Linked DNA regions of Homo sapiens. The protein of the gene in region 1 interacts with the protein of each later gene in a pairwise test. Each region holds a gene or a part of one and is shown in the gene's direction. Other genes may lie near its edges.

The links.
Region 2: the proteins of ROPN1 (region 1) and PRKAA1 interact in binary tests that used the Homo sapiens proteins (3 or more experiments, as listed by UniProt).
Region 3: the proteins of ROPN1 (region 1) and CNST interact in binary tests that used the Homo sapiens proteins (3 or more experiments, as listed by UniProt).
Region 4: the proteins of ROPN1 (region 1) and UBE2W interact in binary tests that used the Homo sapiens proteins (3 or more experiments, as listed by UniProt).
Region 5: the proteins of ROPN1 (region 1) and TULP3 interact in binary tests that used the Homo sapiens proteins (3 or more experiments, as listed by UniProt).
Region 6: the proteins of ROPN1 (region 1) and HNRNPUL1 interact in a two-hybrid assay, tested with the Homo sapiens proteins (2 studies listed by BioGRID and IntAct).
Region 7: the proteins of ROPN1 (region 1) and TSHZ3 interact in binary tests that used the Homo sapiens proteins (3 or more experiments, as listed by UniProt).

Annotation. Positions count from the first base shown.
Region 1 is NC_000003.12:123,968,515-123,971,819, reverse strand, and holds the end of ROPN1 (ropporin-1A), read left to right. Parts: intron 1-1,602; coding exon 1,603-1,778; intron 1,779-2,598; coding exon 2,599-2,665; 3' UTR 2,666-2,805; downstream 2,806-3,305. UniProt on the Homo sapiens protein: Important for male fertility. With ROPN1L, involved in fibrous sheath integrity and sperm motility, plays a role in PKA-dependent signaling processes required for spermatozoa capacitation.
Region 2 is NC_000005.10:40,777,875-40,781,374, reverse strand, and holds part of PRKAA1 (5'-AMP-activated protein kinase catalytic subunit alpha-1), read left to right. Parts: exon of another isoform or gene 1-20; intron 21-1,036; exon of another isoform or gene 1,037-1,293; coding exon of another isoform or gene 1,294-1,342; intron 1,343-3,500. UniProt on the Homo sapiens protein: Catalytic subunit of AMP-activated protein kinase (AMPK), an energy sensor protein kinase that plays a key role in regulating cellular energy metabolism.
Region 3 is NC_000001.11:246,590,456-246,593,955, forward strand, and holds part of CNST (consortin), read left to right. Parts: intron 1-1,056; coding exon of another isoform or gene 1,057-1,107; coding exon 1,108-1,486; intron 1,487-3,500. UniProt on the Homo sapiens protein: Required for targeting of connexins to the plasma membrane.
Region 4 is NC_000008.11:73,872,363-73,875,862, reverse strand, and holds part of UBE2W (ubiquitin-conjugating enzyme E2 W), read left to right. Parts: intron 1-3,500. UniProt on the Homo sapiens protein: Accepts ubiquitin from the E1 complex and catalyzes its covalent attachment to other proteins.
Region 5 is NC_000012.12:2,938,765-2,941,638, forward strand, and holds the end of TULP3 (tubby-related protein 3), read left to right. Parts: intron 1-546; coding exon 547-680; 3' UTR 681-1,765; coding exon of another isoform or gene 1,766-1,962; 3' UTR 1,963-2,374; downstream 2,375-2,874. UniProt on the Homo sapiens protein: Negative regulator of the Shh signaling transduction pathway: recruited to primary cilia via association with the IFT complex A (IFT-A) and is required for recruitment of G protein-coupled receptor GPR161 to cilia, a promoter of PKA-dependent basal repression machinery in Shh signaling.
Region 6 is NC_000019.10:41,270,872-41,274,371, forward strand, and holds part of HNRNPUL1 (heterogeneous nuclear ribonucleoprotein U-like protein 1), read left to right. Parts: intron 1-1,210; coding exon 1,211-1,364; intron 1,365-3,110; coding exon 3,111-3,184; intron 3,185-3,500.
Region 7 is NC_000019.10:31,279,937-31,283,436, reverse strand, and holds part of TSHZ3 (teashirt homolog 3), read left to right. Parts: intron 1-3,500. UniProt on the Homo sapiens protein: Transcriptional regulator involved in developmental processes. Functions in association with APBB1, SET and HDAC factors as a transcriptional repressor, that inhibits the expression of CASP4.

The DNA of each region.
Region 1 (3,305 bases):
CAGCACCCCATGGGAGAGGGCAACAGAACAAAGCATTAGGGGTGCAGAGGGTTGTTTTTGTTCATTTGTTTGTTTTTTACAGAAACAGGGTGAGCTGTGGGTGGAAATTATAATGTTCAGAGTGTGCTTGCAAATCTACCCCAAACCATTCTCCCACTGACCTCATCTCACATGCATGATTTACCATCCTCCCAGACAGCCTCATATATACTAGTTGGCCCCATGCCTGCCCTCCCACCTGCTCTGAATTAAGTGAAAGTGAGTAGAAGATGCAGTGTTTCACAACAATTTCCATGAGAGGACCCCCAGGGGCAGAGGAGAGGAAAGGAAGGTGGCCTGCCTCAAACTCAATTTTTTTTGACATCATGTATTGAAGATTCTGTTTTATAAAATAACAATGCTTATTAAATGTAAAGAATCAAATTTGAAATATTAACTCAATTAAAATTAATAATTATTACAAATTATGTTTAAATTACTTGCCATCAAGTAAAACTATCACTCAAGGAAGAGTTTATTCACATCCTCAGTACCTCCTGACATAGACTTACGCTCCTGGGTAACACACACCACAGTTAGAGAAGCCTCATCTAGGCAATCATTCTGTTCTGGGAGAGGATGAGAGGAGAACAGCAGACATCAACTGCTAAGGCAGGACAAGTCTCCTCTACTAATCATGTGGGAAGATACAGCAGCTGCTTTTTCACTCACCCTAAGTCACCACTCAGAACTGATCTTTCACTGATCCCTGGAAGAGTGTCAGGATGATCCGTACATCATCAGTTTCAGTAAACCACCAAGATCTGTTGGTGACCTTCATTTCACAACTCTTTTGCTTGTAACATTTATTCAAAGGGTGGGTTATTTAAAGACATGAGATGAGTTCTGAGCATGCTCCTTTAATGTTCAAGTTTCATTGCAAGGAGGGTTTGCTTCTGTAGTAACCCTTCTATTAAAATTCCTGGCACTCATTGTCAACCAATATTTCCCCAGCAATAAAAGGGTTAGTATTATGTAGTATGAAATAAAGCACTAGCTGATTCTATTTAGATGGACCCAGATGCTTTAGAGGAACGTTTATCTTGATGTTTAAGAACATTTTTCCAGTATCTTCCTGGGACTCCATTTTCCTGGGGAAATTACCCTTCTCCTACCTTCTTCTCCTCTACTGTGTCATTGCCACAAGTATCCTGCTGGACTATATAGGCTAGACCATCTATCTCAGCCCTTTAGAGATAAGACTGGAGGGTAATAAGAAGAAATAATTCTAATTATATAGAATGCAAATCAACTTCCCTCCTTTAGTGAGGTTATTCGGGCTAAAGTAACAAATATCTTAAAGTACTTAGGAATGTATAAATTTAATTCCTTGAGTAGTCTTCCAACAAAGAAAGAAAAGAAATAAAGATACCCAATACTTAATATTTTTTAGAATGAATTAGTGACATTTGAATGTAAAAATTTCAAGCTTTCTAGAATCTTAAATTGTTCCCACTTCATTTTATAAGAGCAATATTTTTGTTTTCTTTCTTGTATCTAAACCGATCTCAGGAATATTGCCTGGAAGAGTAACTTTCTCCTCATTTTATCTAACTTTTATAGACTATTACCAAAACTCTCAAGATAGTGTGTGAGGTCTTATCATGTGACCATAATGGTGGGTCGCCCCGGATCCCGTTCAGCACCTTCCAGTTTCTCTACACGTATATTGCCAAAGTGGATGGGGAGATCTCTGCATCACATGTCAGCAGGATGCTAAACTACATGGAACAGGAAGTGTAAGTTAACTTTTGTCAAGTGGAGGTGAAAGAATACCAGGAAAAGAAATCTAGCTGGCCAAGATAGTGAGATTATTGTATTATACTGCTCTGGAAACAGAAAAGTATTGTGAGAAACATGAAATATGGATGATCTGAAAGAAAACGGGAAAGGGAAGGAGAAGAGGAAGGAAAAGAATGATATAGGAAAACAATTCTTTCAGTGCTACTGAGACTAGCAGTAGCGGCAGCAGCACCTAAGAAGATGTTAGAAATGCAGAATCTCAGGCTACACCCTGGACCTATGGAATCATAAACTCTAGGGCCAGAGCCCAGGAATCTGTGTATTTATAAGCCCCCCTAGTAACTCTGACTCACGCTTAGCTATGACCAGTGGAACAGAAGTGGAGAAGGAGGAGGAGGAGAAGCAGGCAGTCAAAGGTTAAAAGAAAAAGAGGGCCGGTCATGGCGGCTCACACCTGTAACCCTAGGGTGGGTGGATGGCTTTAGCTCAGGAGTTCAAGACCGGCCTGGGCAATCTGGTGAAACCCTGTCTTTACTAAAAATACAAAAATTAGCTAGGCGTGGTGGTATGTGTCTGTATCAGTTAATTGGGAGAATAGCTTGAGCCCAGGAGGCAGAGGTTGCAGTGAGCCAAGATTGCACCAGTTACTCCAGCCTGGATGACAGAGCCAGACCCTGTCTCAGAAAACAAAACAAAACAAAAAAAGAGAAAAAGGAGCAACAGCAGAATTAATGTGAAATGAGAGTTGTTTGCATATTGTCTTTCTTAAGATTAACTGTCAATGAACTAACTGCAGATATACCTTTTTCCAAACAGAATTGGCCCTGATGGTATAATCACAGTGAATGACTTTACCCAAAACCCCAGGGTTCAGCTGGAGTAAAAGCACAATTTTGGCAATTTTAAAGGAAGATACAGAGATGATTGTACTTCAGAATGACTGAAACCCATATACCACCCAAAATCAATTTTCTTGTACAACTGGTACACACTAATAAACAATTAAACATATGAGATCAGAAATGTGCAGAATTAAGATGTGAAATTGTTGGAACAAAACACCTTCATTACCAGATTAGTATTCTTCCCACATGGACACTGAGTAAAAGTGGCTGACAAAGCATGGATAGAAAATGCATCTTCAATCAAAGCCAGACTGTCAGATTTTAAAAGGTAGTATGTTAACCAGACACAGTGTTGTTGTTCTGTGATTGTTAGGCATAATTTAGATGAGTGTCTTTTATATGGTCAATTGAAGTTTTTACCAGTTTATTTCTCCATTTGTTGGTACTGTGCTAGTCATTCATTCATCCTCTCACTCATCAATATTTATTGAGGTTAGCTATGTGCCAGGAATAGGGTTGCAAGAAATAAATACAGGACACCCAGTTAAATTTGAATTTCAGACAAACAACAAATATGTTTTGTTTTGGTTTTTGCTAAACCTGGCAGCATTCCAGGAACTATGCTGGCTTCTGAGCACATACAAATAAATAATATCAGAATTCTGCCTTCAAGGAGCT
Region 2 (3,500 bases), on another chromosome or scaffold:
ATATATTCTCCAGTAGGTTCCTGAGAAAGGGTGCACAAAGGTTAAATTTTTGGAGACTTAGCCTCATGACTGTCTAAATTCTACTGGTGATCATATCCCCAAAAGACCAAATCCCTAATGCCATAATCCCAAATGTTGAAATACTGAAAGATCAAAATCTCTAAAAATCAGAATCCCTAAATTCTAAAAATCTCACACATCTGAAATCCTGAAAATCAGAATCATGAAAGATTAAAATCCCAAATGTTGAAATGCTGAAAGCCAACACCTGGGGTAGAAATTAGTGCACATTCGGTTGTATGAAAGATAGTTGCATCATTTTACTTGCATCATATTAGGTGGAACCGATTGCCTTTTTATTGTATTTATTTGGAAATTAAGTATGGTTTAAGGAGATGGTTTATGGGTGCCAAATTGACGAGGGGTGGATTCATGGATTTAATTTTAGGTGTCAACTTGACTGGATTAAGAAATACCTAGAAACTTGTTAAAGCATTATTTTGGGTTTGTCTGTGAGGAGATTAGTATGTGAGTCTGAGTGGACTAGGTGGGGAAGATCTGCCCTCAATAGCGGTGGCCACCATTAAATCTGCTGGGGGCCCAGAGAAAACAAATTGTTGCCTTTCTGAGAGCTGGAACGGACTTTTCTTCTGCTGAATTGAACATCAGAACTCCAGGCTTGTTGGCATTTGGACTCTAGGACATACACCAGCAGCCCCCTGGGTCCTGGGCTTTCAGCCTCAGACTGAGACCTGGTTTGGCTTGGTTCTGAGGTCTTTGGACTGAGCCAAGCTACCAGCATGCCAGGGTCTCCAGCTTGAAAATGACCTGTCCTGGAACTTATCAGCCACTATAATCGCATGAGCCAATTCCCCTAATAAATCGTCTCTCATATATCTATGTATATATATATCTTATTGGTTATGTCTCTCAAGAATGCTGTCTGTCGAGAATTATGTCTGTCGAGAATGCTGACTAATACGGATTTGGTATTGAGAAAGCCAAATATCATTCCTTCTTACTGTATTCCTTACAGCACAGTGGAAGAGACCTGTGAAATTGTTCCCTTGCAAAAAGGCTGTGATAAATTAAGTATACCAGGCTACTTAATGCTGAAAGAGAAAAGTTTAAAAGCTAATTATTATTGGTGTTGTGAAGACAGAAAATCACTTAATTGCAATGGCCAAGCAATAACCAGATTTCTAAATGGTCAGCATATACTTACAAAATATTTAGACCACAACCGCTCTAGTCTAAACACAAGTGAATGTTTTGAAGATCATAGAAGTGAATATGCAGGTGAAAAATATAAGAAAGCTCCCCTGCCAAATTATTCAATCAGGTATGACTTCTGCCCTTTCACACATAGTGCCAATTTGCTATGCTATGTATTTTATCTTTGCATCATTTCTAATACTGCAGGTATAAATTCTGTAAAGGCTTTTAGAGAATTCTAATTCATTTTATGCACTTTTTTTTTGCATATTTGACTCCATGAAAGTGCATTATCACAATGTGACGTAATGTGTAAGCATTGTGCATGTACATAAAAATGTTGAAACTTGCTCAGTAAATGAAGAGATGTCCGTTTTGTTCATCTGTATTTGTGAAAGATAAAATTTCTCAAGATCTTGGCTCTTTGGGTGACTCTATTGCAGTTTTTGTGCAAACGGTAGTGACCCATTGCAGTTTTTGATCGATCTTGTCAGAAGATTCAGGTTGTCTGGTATTTCAGATGACCGCAGTTATGAATCTGGGTGCACCTGATTACCAACCATAGTGATACGTGTTTATCCATTTTGCTTTTTAATCTATTTCTTCATGAATACATTTTCTCTGTTCCTATTATACCCATGCAATGGTTGTTAGTATACCTGAGTATTTATGCTTGCAAAAATATGTTATTAGTGCCTATTTTATTGTGTAAAGGGGCCTATGAACTGTTCCGTTGTGTTTTTATGTTTCTCAAATAAATCTTTTAAAAATGGAAATAAGTGTCTTTTAGAGAACTTTTTACAAATTATTTTTCCAGAATTCAATTTTTTGGATTTTGTTCTTTTGGGATTGTGATTTTTGGAATTTTAGATTTTAGGGATTTTGATCTTTTGGGATTTCAACATTTGGGATTATGGCATTTGGGATTGTGTCTTTTGGGATTATGTCCTAAACCCAAATTCTGTCACCACCGACTGTCTAGTGATAACATTTAAAATGGAAAGATAAAATGACTTGATTTTTTTTTTCCCTTTATTTTTAACTGCATTTAAAAAAATAGAGGCTGGGCATGGTGGCTCACACCTATAATCCTAGCACTTTGGGAAGTTGAGGCTGGTGGATTGCTTGAACTGAGGAGTTTGAGACCATCCTGGTCAATATGGTAAAACATCATTTCTACAGAAAAATACAAAAAAATTATCTGGGTGTGGTGGGGCCTGCCTGTAGTCCCAGCTACTTGGGAGGCTGAGATGGGAGGATCACCTGATCACCTGAGCCTGGGGAGGTTAACGCTGCAGTGAGCTCTGATTGTGACACGGCACTCCACCCTGGGTGATAGAGTGACACCCTGTCTCAAAAAAAAAAAAAAAAAAAAAAAAATTAAAAAACAGGAAAAAAAATTTAAAACACAGAGAAACCAAAAAAACTAGAAACCACATGCACATGAACCAGAATTTCAAAGGTATAAGAGGTTATGGATGGGGAAATGTATCTATGACATGAGAGAGTCTTTTGGGATGATGGAACTGTTCTGTATCTGACTATATAATGCTGGTTACACCAATTTCTATATGTTTTAATATCCATATAAATGATACTAAAAGAAAAATTTTAGTCTGTGTGTATGATAGGTTAAAAGGTGAAAAATTAAAAGAATTTAAAAATACGAAAAGGTATACAGCAAAAAAGTCTCCTTCCCCTCTTCCTTTAGTCTTCTAGCTTTCTCTTCTGGAAGAAACCACTGTTACCAATTTCTTATGTATTCTCCTATGTAATCACTCTTAAACATCTGAACATTTGGGATGAATCTGGCAAAAGAGAAAATAACTTATATTTGCTTAGCTATTTTCTGAGGATGCTAGATGACTACTCTTATAATATGTCTAAATATATTATTATTTTTATTTTGTTGAGGCAGAGTCTCAATCATCACCCCAGACTGGAGTGCAGTGGTGCAATCTGGGCTCACTGCAACCTCTGCCTCCCAGGTTCAAGTGATTCTCCTGCTTCACCTCCCAAGTAGCTGGGATTACAGGCATGTGCCACCACTGCACCCAGCTAATTTTTGTATTTGTTTGTTTGTTTGAGACAGAGTTTTGCTCTTGTTGCCCAAGCTGGAGTGCAGTGGTGTGATCTCGGCTCACTGCAACCTCCGCCTCCTGGGTTCAAGCGATTCTCCTGCCTCAGCCTCCCGAGTAGCTGGGATTACAGCTGTGTACCAGCACGCCTCGCCAATTTTTTGTATTTTTAGTAGAAACGGGGTTTCACCATGTTAGCCGGGCTGG
Region 3 (3,500 bases), on another chromosome or scaffold:
TGTCTTATAAACTAGGCAAAAGTGGGAGAGAGGAGGGCAGCAGGAGAAGTGGTGGTCTCCTTCCTTAATGGTATAGGGTGAATATTTTATCTTGTACTTTTCATGGTTTTAGAGACTGTACTTTACATGTTTCTAAAGATTAAGCATTTCTACTCATTAAGTTGAAGAATCTTTAGAAGTCCTCTCACTGAGGTTTTTTTCCAGAATTACTGGATTATTTCTTTCATACCTATCATTTTTCTTAAAATGTAATACACTTGTAGATAATAAGAGGAAATAAAAGATGACTGATAAAGGGCTTGCAGTCTGTTTTGTAAATTTTAAAAATATTAGTGGTATCCTTCAAGCAGATTTAGCATTTCTTCCAATTCTACACTAAGAGTAGCCTAGAGTTAACCATGGCCTTTTTTTTTTTTTTTTTAAGTGTTCAAAAGGATTTTGATGACAACTCTAAGGTACCTTCCAGGGCTTATTTTTAGGAAATAAAAAATAAAACGATAGTATAAATATATGCTACCTAAACTTCCCCTCACATACTTTTTTCTAGGTTATTTTTTTTTAAAATCTTCAAACATTTTCATTTCCAAATATTGCTGCTGTTTAGCCAGAGAAGAACTTATACAACTAGCTTTCAGTTGTCTGCTGAGTGTCCAGGGATTAACATAAGAGACTAATTTCAGCACATAACCTATTTAACTAGTCATTTCATTCAGGCAGTGGTCCCAACCTGATGCACATTAGACTTACCTAGAGAACTTGAAAAATAGTGGTGCCTAGGTTCCATCCTCAGAGATTCTGATGTAATGGTCTAGAATAGAATTTGGGCAGCCTCTCAGGTGATCATCATGAGGAGACAGGCTTGACACCTGTAGTATTCATGTGAGAACTAGCTGAGTTTGGGGTTGGGTTGCATATGGTGAAAGGGAATGAACTTAAGTCATTTCCTTCTCTTCCCTATTTACAATGAAACAACCTAAGAGAAGGGGAAAATCAAAGATCACTGAGAATCTGCAAAGGTTAGAAAATGAAGTAGCTTTTTTCTTTTTGTCATTGTAGACATGGAAGGTCTTTAATGTAACTTTAAATGGTTCACCAAAGGATGCTCTAATGGATGACAGCGATACTCCTACATATTATCTGCAAATAGAACCACAAGATGGATGTCATCCTGGTGACAGCGTGGAAAGGAGTGTGACCTGTCTGCCTTCTGCATCAGATGAAAATGAAAATCAGCTTGACGGGGACGGGCATGAGCATCTGACCAGCAGTGACAGTGCGATGGGAAAGCCCCAAGTGTCTGAGCAGGACAGTCTCAATAATAATGAAAGCTGCACATTGAGCTGCGAGGTGGCTGCAGGTGAGAACTTGCAAAACACCCTTTGTGAAGCCTCCAGAGATGAACAGGCCTTCTTGGGAAAGGACAAAAAAATTCCTGGAAAAAGAAGTCCAAGAAGCAAAAAAGGGACTGCTAAGAAGATACCACCAGGTATTGTTTAAAATAGTATTTATCCTCTTCTTTAATTAATTAAAAATGAACCTCCTTCCCTCCCATACTGTGTTTACTGTCCTGCACCTTGCTTCTTTGCTTACGATATTCTGGAGCTAGTTCCGCCGCAGCACAAGTAGATCCAACTGCATGATATTCCAGTGTGATACGTCTCCACACTGTTCCACCGTATGGGTGTAACACAATTTATTTAATCACTTCCTTATGGCCCTTCCCAGTCTTTTACTATCATAAACAGTGCTGAGGCCGGGTACGGTGGCTCACGCCTGTAATTAGCACTTTGGGAGGCCGAGGTGGGCGGATTACCTGAGGTCGGGAGTTCAAGACCAGCCTGGCCAACATGGTGAAACGCCATCTCTACTAAAAATACAAAAAATGAGCTGGGTGCAGTGGCGTGTACCTGTAATCCCAGCTACTCTGGAGGCTGAGGCAGGAGAATCGCTTGAACCTGGGAGGCGGAGGTTGCAGTAAGCCAAGATCACGCCACTGTACTCTAGCCTGGCTACAGAGTGAGACTTCGTCTCAAAAAAAAAGAAAAGAAAAAGTGCTGAAATTGACATCCTTTGTACATGTTTTCACATTAGGTACTTTAAATATATGCAGCCTCCTCTCCCTCCTTTATAAATTAGACCATTTTCTACCAATATCAACCTTAAAAATTGCCTTCTGTCATTCCTGTGGCTTTGATCCCTAACCTGTGAGTTTAGATGCTACTGTGACCTCTTTATAGATCTTTCCATCTCACTCAGCAGGTAAATAAAATACAGGAACATATATTAATGTACAATTTAATATGTAGTGTTGAATAAGACATCTGGTTCTAATTATCTGTATCACTTTGGTTAAAAAGTAATTCAGAGTATTTCTTGTTTGGTATGCAGTTTGGCAGTTGAAGTTTAGAGCTATGGAATTTTTGGCCTGAATCACAGGGCCCCCTTGGGAAAAGGCAGCCTCTGGTTATTTTTTTTATCAGAAACATATGGGACTAGAAAGTTTTGGTATGCCCTAGACTGGATTCCTTAGTGTAGTACCACTTTTTACCCAAGCCAACAGATTTTACATCAGACTCTAGTGAACTAAGTAGAATGCCTCTTCATCTTCTGTTCTCTTCTTTGGTTAATTAGAAATATATCTGTCTATATCGTATTTTTTATTTGTATTTTTAAAATTTGAAGTAAAATACAAAACTTTTCAGTTTCTACAAAATCCATATTTATTCAATAAAGTAATTTGAAAACTTTTTAATATAATTCATAATCTGGCTTTCTGGTTAATGTAACTCATAATTTGGCTTTTCACGTCCCTGTATCTTTTTCTTAGTAGACTCAAAATAATTTTTAACCAGGGATATGAAAGCTTTTTTTTTTTTTCTTTTTTTTGAGGCGAGTCTCACTCTGTCACCCAGTATGGAGTGCAGTGGTGCAATCTCAGCTCACTGCAACCTCCGCCTCCTGGATTCAAGCAATTCTCCTTCCTCAGATGATTCTCCTGCCTCAGCCTCCTGAGTAGCTGGGATCACAGGTGTGCACCACCATGCCCAGCTAATTTTTTTTGTATTTTTAATAGAGACAAGGTTTCACCATGTTGGCCAGGCTGGTCTCAAACTCCTGACCTCGTGATCCGCCCACCTCTGCCTCCCAAAGTGCTGGGATTAAAGGCGTGAGCCACCGTGCCCAGCAAAAGCATTTCTTAAAAGATCTAATAAGCAGAGGATATTTACAGTACTATGTATATATAAATCAGTTTATTCTATAACTATCATTCAAGGGCAAATTCACCAGGCCTCTCAATCTGATTTTGTGATTTTATTTTATTTTCAAGACAGGGTTTCACTCTGTCACCCAGGCTGAAGTGCAGTGGCGTGACCATGGCTCTCTGCAGCCTTGATCTCCCAGGCACAAGCGATTCTCCCACCTCAGCCTCTGGAGTAGCTCGGACAACAGGCATGTGCTACCATGCCTGACTAATTTTTCTTTTCTTTTTATTTTTGTAG
Region 4 (3,500 bases), on another chromosome or scaffold:
GGCCAGGCTGGTCTTGAACTCCTGACCTCAGGCGATCCACTCGCCTCGGCCTCCCAAAGTACTAGGATTACAGGTGTGAGCCACTGCACGCGGCCAAGTGTGTTATTATATTAGAAGGTGATAGTGCAGTGGAGAAAAAGCATGGAAGAAGACTAGGAAATTGATCATTTGGGGATTTCGATTAGGAAAAAATAAGCTGTAACATGGAATGACCATGTCCTTAACCCAAAAAGCTTTTAGTAGATTTATCTAACCCACACCAGGATGTTGCTGCTGCTGCTGAAGTTACTTAAGCTCTAAGAGGAACTGTATTTTTTTTAAAATGCCATATTATACAAATGTAACATGGGATTTCATTACTTGGTAATGAGTAAAACAAGTAAGGGTAGACTTTGAATTTCTTATTGGAGAGTATGTATTTTAAAGTTGAGCTAGTAACTGCTTTAATGTATTCTGTCAGTGCGTCTCAACCATCTTTTAGGTTCTGCCCACATAGAAAGTAAGTTTTGAATAGTACACTAAAGTAGATGAGATTGGGAGGCTAGAAGCACCTGGCAGGCAGCACCTCATGAAACTCCCGGGATGGGAGATCAATATTCTGGCACACCTGTAAATGCTGGGGACGCTCTACTCCCTAATATTGCTAGAGTTCTGCCATATACAATTCAAGATAGTGGTTTTCAGACTTATGTGATCCCTTTGAGACATTCTTTACTCATTTTCTTTTTTTCTTTTCCTTCCTATTGTTTCTTCCTAGAAAAAAGTAATGTATCACCAAGTAAGATTACAGTTAAATTATGTTTTAAGAAACCTTTTCTTTTTTGGAGACAGGGTCTCACTGTGTCACCCAGGCTGGAGTGCAGTGGCGCTGTCTCGGCTTGCTGCAGTTTCAACCTCCCTGGGCTCAAGTGATCTTTTCCATCTCAGCCTCCTGAGTAGCTGTGACTACAGGTTTTTGTATTTTGTAGAGACAGGTTTCACTATGTTGCCCAGGCTGGTCTGGAACTCCTGGGCTCAAGCAGTCACCTGCCTTGGCCTCCCCAAATCCTGGCATTACAGGCGTGAGCCTATGTGCCCAGTCTTAAGAAACCATCATTAAGAGAATGTTATATTTGTGGTGATACCTAAAATTGATAGGAGTTAAACAGATCTACATTTAATTTTGGTAATTCTAAAAATCTTTAAATATTACATGAAAAGTTTCTTGTAGCAAATTTTTAGTTTTAGCGTTTTAGGGACTGATTATTTGGTAGAAACTTTTATCCCCAAACTGCAGAAGCATTCTTTTATTGAAGTGAATTTTTATGTGATTCTAAACATTTTTGAAAGTGTAGCAGTATTGAGGTATTCTTTTCTCAGGTGAATCCTAAAATTGAATTTTTTGTTGTTGTTGTTAAATGCTTTTTTAAAATTTTATTTTATTTTATTTTTTTGAGACAGAGTCTCGCTGTCGCCCAGGCTGGAGTGCAGTGGTGCGATCTCGGCTCACTGCAGGCTCCAATCCCCGGGCTTCATGCCGTTCTCCTGCCTCAGTCTCCCGCGTAGCTGGGACTACAGGCGCCTGCCACCTCGCCCGGCTTATTTTTTGTATTTTTAGTAGAGACGGGGTTTCACTGTGTTAGCCAGGATGGTCTCCATCTCCTGACCTCGTGATCCGCCCGCCTCGGCCTCCCAAAGTGCTGGGATTACAGGCGTCAGCCACCGCGCCCGGCCGTGTTTTTAAATTTTATAACCTTTTTTCTTTCCTATGTATTATTTAATGTTATGAAGTACTTGACCTCCTGGATATAATTTCTGATTTTAGAATTTAACTGCTTCATTCAGACTTCTCGTAAGTTAGCAATTTTAACATATATGCTGTCTAATTTTCTAATTTGACATTCTAGAATTGTTAATTTTAGATAAAACCTCCTGTTACGTTGTGTCTTAAGATCTTAGAAAGTCAGTGCATAGTAGTTGATGTTTGTCAACTCTAAAAACAGTGATATAATTGAGAGAAATGGTCAGTTGAATTACCCTTGTGAAATTTCTGCATTTACTTCCTCTCTTACCTAGCTGGGTCTTAGACTGTTAACTGTCAATTTGTAGGGATGGAAGGAGGTTGAGATTTAATAACAGGAGATAAAGTATGAATGTGTGCTTATTTTCAGACTTAGAAATAATGCATTATTTTGGATTATTCACAGCTTTTAAAATTTTTTCTCTCTGAGACAGGGTCTCACTCTGTCACCCAGGCTAGAGTGCAGTGACGTGGTCTTGGCTCACTGCACCCTTGTCCTCCCAGGCTCGGGTGATCCTCCCACTTCAGACTCCCAAGCAGCTGGGACTATAGACACGCCACCATGCCTGGCTAATTTTTTTATTTTTTGTAGAGATGGGTTTTTTCCCTGTTGCTCAAGTTGGCCTTGAACTCCAGGACTCAGCCATCGGCCCACCTTGGCCTCCTAAAGTGCTGGGATTATTACAGGATGAGCCATTGCCCCCAGCCCACTGCTCTTTGCTCAAGTAATTGGCTATAGTGATTGAGAGAGATGGAACATGGACTCTTACAGACATTACTGTTGTAGTAGTCATGTTGCCTTGACAGTTAGATACGACGTCTGTTTGTTGATGTCAGTATGGAAGGGTTACAACATAATTAAAAGTTAGAAAATAGGCCAGCATGGTGGCTCAAGCCTGTAATCCCAGCACTTTGGGAGGCTGAGGTGAGTGGATCACCTGAGGTCAGGAGATCGAGACCAGCCCGGCCAACATGGTGAAACCTAGTCTCTACTAAAAATACAAAAAAAATTAGCCAGGCGTGGTAGAGCGCATCTGTAATCCCAGTTATTTGAGAGGCTGAGGCAGGAGAATCCCTTGGGCCCAGGAGGCGGAGGCGCCTTGCAGTGAGCGGAGATCATGCCACTGGACTCCAGCCTGGGCGACAGAGTGAGACTCCAGCTAAAACAAAAAAAAAAAAAAGGAAAAAAAAAAAGGATTATCTTTGAACAGTAAAAATTTACAATTATAATTTTACTCAGTACACAAGTATACACATGAGAACTTCTTTTTAAAATATGATACATAAAGTAACCTTGTGTTATAAACTCAGGAATATTTCTTCTTTTCTTTAGCTATAAAAACTATAAAGTAGTTTAGTAAATGCTTAATTCTTGACTGAAAAGTTACATAATTACACCAATGATTTCTCTGTGATGCCAAACTGTGTTCATTACTTACACCTTCACAGCATCAACAGATTTCAGAGCTTAGTTTCACTACTCAGTTACTGTGTAATTTTGAGTAAGTCACTTTCCAAATAAGTACATACTTACCAGCAGTTACTGCTATGTCTCTATTAGAATGAAATTAGGTTAGTTGACTTCCTTTTTTATAAAGAATATGAAGATACTATGAAGAACATTACAGTTATGGCAAACGCATGCAGCAAGAAAATAAGCCACTTTTTTGGTATATTATATAAATATGAATTTTAAATTATTCCTTTATAGGTACTGAAC
Region 5 (2,874 bases), on another chromosome or scaffold:
AGCAAGAACCTGTCTCAGAAAAAAATAAAAAATCAGAGAAGTCATAGAGTAGGTTGTTTGGGAAACAAAGGCAAATGACCCCAATAAAGGTTCCTGGCAGCTCTAGCCTGCGGAGTTTATGACATTCCCAGCAAGCTGCTCTCTATTCTACAGAAACCTGGTGATTAACTGGCCTATTTGGAGGATTCTTTCTGTATCATAAATAGGATCCCAGCACTTTGGGAGGCCGAGGCAGGAGAATCACTTGAGCCTAGGTGTTTGAGACCAGCTTGAGCAACATAGTGAGACCCTATCTTCACAAAAAGTAAAATATTAGCCAGGCGTGGTGGCGCTTGCCTGTAGTCCCAGCTACTCAGGAGGCTGAGGTGGGAGGATCACTTGAGCCTGGGACGGGAGGTCAAGGCTGCAGTGAGCTGTGGTCATTCCACTAGGCTCCAGCCAGGGCGACAGAGCAAAACCCCATCTAAGAAAAGGAAGAAAAAGAAAAAGATTTCCCTGAGTGCAACCACATTATATTCTAACATGTTGATTTCTTTCTGTTTCTAGCTGATTATATAGTCATGCAGTTTGGACGTGTGGCAGATGACGTGTTCACACTGGATTACAACTACCCACTTTGTGCAGTACAGGCCTTTGGCATCGGTCTTTCTAGCTTTGACAGTAAGCTGGCGTGTGAATGAGAGAACAGTCAGGCAGGGAGCCCTTCTCCCCACAGAGCTTTCAGGAGCAGACAGTGGCCTCCCCTTCCCCTCCCTGCCCCAGGACTTAAAGAGCAATAGTTTGCCCCTTTTGGAATGATCTCTGAATATATAAAACACACACACAAAGAGCAATAGTTTGCCCCTTTTGGAACGACCCCTGAATATATAAAACACACACACGAAGAGCAATAGTTTGCCCCTTTTGGAACGACCCCTGAATATATAAAACACACACGAAGAGCAATAGTTTGCCCCTTTTGGAACGACCCCTGAATATATAAAACACACACACGAAGAGCAATAGTTTGCCCCTTTTGGAACGACCCCTGAATATATAAAACACACACACACCCCGCGCACTCTCACTCCTTTTCCAGGTTTCATAGACTTGGTGAGGGATCACAGCTTAGCATGGGTGAGAGATGATTTAAAGCACAGGGAGATTCTTGTCACATTGGGGTCTCCAAAGCTAGAATGGGATTTCATGTGCTTGGAAACTTGCAGTAGAATCAGGGACTGACATCGCAGTTCCTCTCCTCTCTTCATTCCCTCACAGCAGATTGGCCGGCACCAATCTTAGTCAAGAGTGGCTGTGATCACATTTGTGATCAATTATGTGAGAATTTTATATAATTGTCTTCATTTCAATTAAGGCTGAAAGCATAAACTCTAGAGGTGACTCAGTCAGGACTGACAGTAATGTGATAATTGCCTTCATTTTCAACCCAGGAGTGCCTCTCACAGCTATATGACTACGGATCCATTAGTGAGGAGCGACACACACACCTGTAGGCATCCTGTGCAAACACTTTGTCATTATCAAGAGAGATGGCAGTATTGACCATTTAGTTTAGTTAAAAAAAAAAAAAAAAAGGTGGCAGGAGAGGCTTTGGGGAGGATCAGCCAGCAGACATGAGCACTGCTGGCCCGTGTGGCAGAGCTGTGGACTTTCTTCTCGGCTCCCTCAACCCTGGCTCAGGCACAGAAGGTGTTTTGCTACGTTTTTTTGATTATTACACCCCTCCACGTATTATGTGACTCTTACACCAGTTCACCCTTCCCAGAATGTATCCAAACCTTGAGAATGCAGGAGCTCTGTGAGCTCCACCGTCAGCACCATTCAGCTGCATCCCTTGTGCACAGAACTGTTTGCCAGCGTTGGGTGGGACACCCGTGGCGGCTGCTCCCTCAGACCTCCCTTCTGTGGACTGACCTCTCACCTCCGCCTGTTGTTCCTGCACCACATCAGATAAGCATGTGAAGGAGGGCCAACTGGCAGCTGCGGGACCCTTGGCTTGTCCCCCACCGACAAGTCCCACCTGCTGGGTGAGGACGAGACTGTTTCCATCTCAGGCATGTATCCCACCAAGTGCCTCCCTCACAGCCATGCCCAGAAGCCTCACACCTCGTCACCACCACCACCCCCCACCCCATCCTGAGGCACTGCCTGGCAGATAACCCTGGTTGGCCACAGAAGCTATTAATACACGACAGCATGTGGGGAAGGACTTATGGTGGGCCAGGTGGACCTCATCCTGCTTCTTCCTCCCTCTGGTTTAAAGAGATATATAAACTAATTTCACATAATTTGTGTGTGCAGGTGATTGGTTTTTACATAAGTCCTATTTATACCTTTTATATGTTACAGAAATAAAAGTTAATTTATATAAAAATGTGTCACTGCCTTTGCAAGTCCTATGCCTCAGGAAGTTCCTACTGTCATGTTATATAATCATAATTGTCATCTTGGGCCACGTGCAGTGGCTCACGCCTATAATCCCAGCACTTTGGGAGGTTGTGGCAGGCGGATCACCTGAGGCCAGGAGTTGGAGACCAGCCTGGCCAACACGGCAAAACCCTATCTCTACTAAAAATACCAAAATTAGCTAGGTGTGGTGGTGCATGTCTGTAATCCCAGCTACTCAGGAGGCTGAGGCATGAGAATCACTTGAACCTGGGAGGCTGAGGTTGCAGTGAGCAGAGATCACACCATTGCACGCCACCCTGGGCCACAGAGTGAGACCCTCGCCTCAAAAAAAGAAAAAAAAATGTTTTGGTAACACATCAGTTCTGTAAAACCAGGTGATTACTAACAAACTTCTCATCCTGATGTAGAGCAGGAATCTGCAGACTAAGAAGGCTGTGTTCCGGAGGCTACCTAGACACACTATAC
Region 6 (3,500 bases), on another chromosome or scaffold:
GGTGTAAGCCACTGCGCCTGGCCTCTCCTCCCCATTTTATAGATTGAGGAGTTGGCTTGTCCGATGGCAGAGCTGGGGCTACAACCTAGCATACTTGCTCCCAGGCTAGTCCTCTTGGTTAATAAGCAGCATTCCTTATCATTTGTGCCTTACTATTTGGAAAGCAGGGTCCCACTATTGAGAACTGATGGAGCCCGGACTGACCCCCAGTTTTGTGCTGCTTTTACTGTGTTGTGGCCTCCCAGTGCCTTTTCTTAGTGTATCTGGTTGATTTTGTCTAACGCCATTCTGGTTCATCCACAAAGTTAAATCCCCAGACATTTCTTGTGGGTGGCTCAGAACTTTACTGAATGTAGGTTAAACCGCAGATTTGTGTCAGGCTCTGTGAGACTTGTAGGATCATTCAGCCACAGGAGAATATTTTCTGTGCCGTTATCCACAGACATTCATCAGGAGCCCTGTGTGAGCCCAACCTATTGCTGGGAACCAGGGAAGCTCTCTTCAGGATGGCTGAGCACCATCCCAGCCCTAGAGAACCAGGAGACTTTTCTGAGAGATGTGGTCCACATGCCGAAGCTGGGGAGTGATCCAAAATGGTCTGGGGTTGAATGCAGAAATGAGTAGATGTGAATGAGCTTCAGCATCAGGGATTAATGCTGTGGGAGAAATGAAGGTAGCCTACATCTGTGGTTTGCTCTTGGTTAGGCACTGATTCCTGGAGTCTGCCTGAGACTAGGACTTACCCGTGGTCCACAGCACGGTATCCCATCCTGACTTTCTGTTAATGGTATGACTTAAAGAGGTTATTGCACCTATGGGATGGCTTAACCGGAGTGATTCTGGCCTCTTTTGGTAGGGTAACTAAAGCCCGTAGAGTTAGCTGCAGGACCACAGTACCCTGTTGAATTCATCCTCTCCCCCTCCCTTGCCAGACTGAAGAAGCTTTGTAAGAACTAAGGCAGAGAGGTTCTTTGGGAAGAGAAATTGGAGAATTTAGGGTCATGGTATCTCAGATCCTAACCCTGTTCTCCAGTATGGCCTTCTTGGCTGGCTCAGCAGGCTTCTGTTGAACTCAGCAAGCTGCCTGTGCCCAGCCCTTCATCACTGTAGTGAGGATCCTGCTCACATCTCTCAAGGGAAAAGGGACCAGAAAAGTGATAGCTGGGGAGCTTGCGAGTGTCTTGACCATCTGAATTTGTCTTGACAATAGAAATGAAGACAGAGATGAAGCAAGGAGCACCCACCAGCTTCCTCCCGCCTGAAGCTTCTCAACTCAAGCCAGACAGGCAGCAATTCCAGAGTCGAAAGAGGCCTTATGAAGAAAACCGGGGACGGGGGTACTTTGAGCACCGAGAGGATAGGAGGTGGGTGTATGAGGCAGCAGTCACCCTTGCTCTGGTAGGTTTCTATATCCATAGCCTCGTGCTTGCTGGGGACATTTGCACTAACCTAGAGGGGCTGAGTAAAGATTCCCTCTGCTTTCACACTCTTCCTGTCCCTTCCCGTACTTGCTACCAGATTCAGCTTTCCTAAACTTTTGGTCCTTCCCCCAGTTCCTCCCTTCTTACCTGCAGGGTAACTTCTAAATATCTTAGACTTTCACGCGTGAGATGCCAGCCTGCCTGTTCTGTCCTTTGCCTTACTGCCCCTGCAGTCAGCTGCTTGATACCCGTAATGAAAGAAATATCTGTTTCCTAACACTACTCCCAAATACACATCCTCTTCCCATTCATCCACTCATTCAGTCAGTTCTCACAGTGCTGTCACGAAGTGCCCACTCTTGGGCTGGACACTAGCAACATACAGATGGACAGTGGGTTTTGCCTTCTGTTGTTCCAGTGTGGGGACTCAGACACATACACTAGTAAGCCACAACCTCTGAGGTGAGTAGTCAGGATGCAGGTGAGTTTCAGGAGTTCAGAAGAGGGAGCAGCCTCTGCTTTGGTCATTTCCCTTCCCTAACAAGCCCTTCCCTCCTTTCCCTCCAGACCAAGTCCTTCCCTTCCCTCCTTCCTTCCTTCAGTTCCTGTCTGAAGCCTTTTGCAATTATGAAAACTAGGAATGGCCACTGTACTCATCTGGACTAGTCATCTGACATTCTATTTCCTATCTGGCGGAGTCCACCTTCTAACTAGCTTGTTACTGTCTGAGACAGGGCCTGGATCTCACAGGCTATGATTTAAGTTAGGACATGGATCCCACCTCATATGGGGTTCTTCCACTGCCTCCCACAGAGCAGAAGCCTGGAAGCTACTTACTGATGGAGAGCAAAGGAAGAACACTCGCTCTGATCCTGGGCTGGCAGGGAAAGTTTCCTAGAATGGACTTAACATGTGATGAGCACAGCTCATCCATGTTAGCCCTGGCCTGGCGAGGCCAGAGGGGCCCTCCACCAGAGGGAAGCCTGCTGCTGGGAGAGTCAGCAGCCAAATGGGCATGGGCTCCCCATCTGTGCATGCAGTGCACTGCGACCACCCAGACTGTCCAGGCAGGACCCTGAGTGTTAGATTCTACCTTTCTACCCTTCTTCCTCGTTCCTGTACAGCAGAAACCAACAGTGTTAAGTCCCTTTTTTAGCGTTTTGGTAGGAAAATGAATATCGTTTATAATTTAGGACACTGAAAAAAATGGGTCATCTCAAATTCTTACAGATGTAGGATTTTAAGAAGCCTGGTACATGGATAGATAGTAATTATTGGGATTTATATAGGCTCTTGCACATTCCCCTTCCTGGCCAGCACCCTTTTGGGATACCACAGCCTCCAAACAGTAACAGAGATCAGTGTGGAAGTGGTTGTCAACATGCAGAGGGTATGGATCAGAATCTTTGGGTGTAAAAAAAGAGTGAAAAAATTCCCTAAATGATTCTGATGCCCCCCTTCAGCAGAGCATGCCTTCTTCAATCCCTGTCTCCACCGTAGGAGTTGACGGTCATTGCTCTCCTTGCAAGGATGTAGGGTTTCAGAGTTCTTTTGCCCACCTCTGTGGAAGGAAATGGAGATTCAGGAAGCAGTCTGGAGGCCACTCATAGATTACAGCAGAACATTCATTTTCTTTCCTTTGTGCTCATCCATTGTTCTTGTATGACTTAACCCCTGTTTCTAATACAGGGGCCGCTCTCCTCAGCCTCCTGCTGAAGAGGATGAAGATGACTTTGATGATACCCTTGTTGCTATTGACACCTGTAAGTCTTTGGAGTGTGCATCTAATTCTGCCTTACAGTCAGTATGGGGAAATTGTGGTCTTGACCTTCACCAGAATCCCTGCTGGGCACCGTCCAAAGACATTGTTAGTCCACATGTGAGACACGGCTTAGCTCTGGAGCAAGAGTACTGGTTTGGAGGCAAAAGACCTACTCCCAACTCTAGCAGTGGGACCCTGGGCAAGTCATTCTACTTCTCTGAGCTTCCCTTCAGGAAGGAGTAAATCTGCTGTACTAACCTCAGAGGATTTTCAGGGAGACTCCTCAGTGGATATAGGAGCAATCTGGAAAACCCTGA
Region 7 (3,500 bases), on another chromosome or scaffold:
AAAGTTCAGTAATCAAGAGTATAAATATTCTCAGAGTAGTGAAATTATTGCAAAGCATGGTGGAAGATGGGAATTTTCCCTTTATTTTTATGTATTTATTTTTGGAGATAGGATTTTGCTTTGTTGCCCAGGCTAGAGTGCAGTGGTGGGTCATGGCTCACTTGCACCCTCCACCTCCGGGTTCAAGTGATTCGCCTGCCTCAGCCTCTGGAGTAACTGGGACTGCAGGCATGTGCCACCATGTCTGGCTAATTTTTTTGTATTTTAGTAGAGATGGGGTTTTACCATGTTGCCGAAGGTGGTCTCAAACTCCTGAGCTCAGGCAGTCTGCCTGCCTTGGCCTCCCAAAGTGCTGGGATTACAGGAATGAGCCACTGCGCCCAGCCCTTCCCTTTATTTTAATGTGGAGGGGAGAACCAGTGGGTAAAAGTCTTAGGCTCCACCTAAGGAAATACTTCTCACCTTCAGATCGGAAAAGAAAATGGTCATTTGAACAGGGAGTGAGGCCCACGTCACAGCCACGAGGGTGTGCGCTTGAAAGAACCCTCAGAAACCATGACATGGTCAGGAGTGGGGTGTGCGGTGAGGCCAGGTCTCTCCAGGACCCAGTTCTGCTTGGCACCAGAGCCTTTTAATTCTCCTCTGAGTTGGATCTTGTTCCACCAGGGAGGTTGAGAGGTTGGCCTTTTCTTTCCATATTAATTTCCTCCTCAGTCATCAGACTGATGACATTCTGACCCTGCTGTGTAGTTTACAAAGCATATCAGAGCGTGTTGTGGGCCAGCCCAGGAGAGGAGCTGGTCATATCATTCATGGTGCATGTGTTGGGGAGGGGTGCTCCGGACGGCCTGGGCTGGTTTGGTGCTTGTGCAGTGGGGGTGGGGAAGGCTCTGGCCATGGGGAGATGCATTGCCCCTGGGTGGAATGTGGGCTGGCAGAGCCCCTGGGTTTCCCTCTCACCTGGTGGCCTTCACCCACAGAGGACTCTTTCATGTCCACTATTGGCTCTGCTGCTTCTGGCTGCTGGTGTCCTCTCGTAGTGGCTGCTGTGGGGCCATTTCTCTCTCAGACTTAATTTCATGGGAGCCACTGTAATAGGAGCAAAATCCCCAGGGTGTGGGGTTTGTATTGCAGACTGTGGCTCCAAGAGGCATCTCCAGGACAGAAGGGGCTTTGATATCTTCACCCATCTACACAGGCCTGGGCATTTCCTTGAGTCTCAGTGGGAGGGACACCAGCCATGGGATTTCCTCCTCTTTCCCCGTTTACAATAAAACCGTACTATGGAAACATCATATATGCATGCACCCGGTGCACTTCTGCAGACAGTGGGCTGTGTCTAGCTAAACCCAGCCTACTCTGCTCCAGCTGTTCCCCGAGAGGATTATAAGAGAGGTTGCAGACCCACCTGGATGCTCTGACCTCAGTCATACTGTGTGCCCCAGCTAGGGTAACAAGCCATCCTTCAGTTTGCATAAGACTGAGTAAATTCCCAGGATGCAAGACATTCAGTGCTGAAACCAGGACAGCTCCAGGCAAATTGGGACACTTGGTTATTCTACCTCGGCTGTTCTTCCTCCAGGCCTGCCACTCCATTGGAGTTTTGAGTCCAGATTTCTAGAATGTGCTGCATGCCGAGGAAGTCTGTCGGGGGGCAGGTGAGGGAGAGTGAGATGTCTTCTTTTCTTTTTCTTTTCCTATTCTTTTCCAACACATGCATTCACAGTCTTCACTGTGGCTAGCACAGGAGCCTCCATTGGCCAGCGCCGTATTTCCCTAAGCATTTGGTCTTGGCCCTAGGAACAGAGCTTTTGCTGTCTTTATTTGTCATCTCAAAGTGCATGGCCTTAAACTTGAGGTTCCCCACAGCACTTCACACTCAGCTGACTGCAGCAGGGCACTCTCTTCTGGTCATTTGTAAAGAACATCCATGGCTCCTGGACAAGACTCTTGCTTAGTAGTTGGCAAATGAGCAGAAGTATCCCCCTCCCTGCAGCTGATGTGTGTACCTGGGGCAGTTCCCATCCAAGTTCACATTACATCAGTGTTGGGATTCCATGTGTCTTGGCTTAGGAATCTTGGCACTCAAAGTAGGGGGCTTAGGAGCAAAAGAATCACACCTGTCCTGGAAGGAATGAGGGGGGCCTATCTGCTTGACTTCAAGGGACTCATTTCACTGTTTTTGTTTGTTTGTTTGTTTATTGTTGTTGTTGGTTTTCTGATGTGAAATGGAACAGGGGCAAATCTTTAAAGCTGGTGGAGTCAATTCCACAAACAAAACTTCCCTTCCTTTCTTAAGAGCTTTTTGTAGAAATCAGCCTTGCAATTAGCACTGCAACGTTCCAACCACTTAACACACTTCCCCACTGGCCTTTTGAAGCAAACAAGTATTTAGAAGCTGACAGGACAAAGTCACTTTATTTCTCCTTTTCCTTTACCTTGAAATTGTTCCTAGCCACAGGGCTGGCCACTCCTCACTGTCCAAAAAACTACCCTGATGCAGTATGCAGTGGCAGATCAGTTTAGTAAGGAATAACCCAAGTCACCGAATGCAAGAGAATGAAAACAAAAACAAAAACAAAAAAAACACCCTGTTGCATTAACGCAAGTATTCTCTGGGCTCTGTGTCTCTGGACGTGCATCTTCCAGAACCTGCAGGCGCGTGGCCTGCCCTCCACCTGCGTGGGAATGCATGCTGGATTTACATCCCAGTTACATCGCTTCCAGAAAGACAGGATCTCTGTTGGATGCCCATGAAGCTTATACTGAGTAAATATTGACAAAGTAGTCTAAAGAGCAAACACTTTGACATTTGTAAGGTCCACTGGAAGGTCTTGTATATATTTATACATCAGGAATGAGCACCGCATACCAATTTTCCTGAACTTGTTGTGACATAATTCTGCATGGAGAGTGTGTGTGCACAGGTGGCTGAGAACGGCTGAGTGTTCACATGGGGGACAGGGCTGGGGGCTGGGTGGTAGCTGGTCAGGGTATTTCCTCTCAACTGGAACGAACCCACACCTATCCCTGCCAGGAAACCTACCTCTAAGCTTTTCTGAGACCTGCTTTTCCAGAAGGAAGAAAGAAAAAAAAAAAGCCACAAAATCTTGTTTTTCCCTTATTACAATGGACGTACTTTTCTTTTTACTTGGTAAAAATTTTATTGATGTTTTTATACTTTATATTTATTAAAGATTGAGCCTCAAAAATGTAATGAGTAAAAAATGCTTGCTTAATTTAAATTGTGAATCTGTCTGTTAAGAAATGCATTAGGGGTAGGAGAAGCATAAGACATATTAATTGACAGACAGGAACTGCTGTCTCTGAGGTTGATACAAGTAATTTATTACTTTAGAAATGAATGCCACCTCCAGAATGTGCTTCATTAATTTCAAATTTAGTTTTAATTTCAAGCTGTTGCCCCTTGAGAAGAATAAGGTGGCAAATTATGTTTGAAGAGCAGATTTTTTTTTTTTTTTGCTCCAAAGAAACACCAC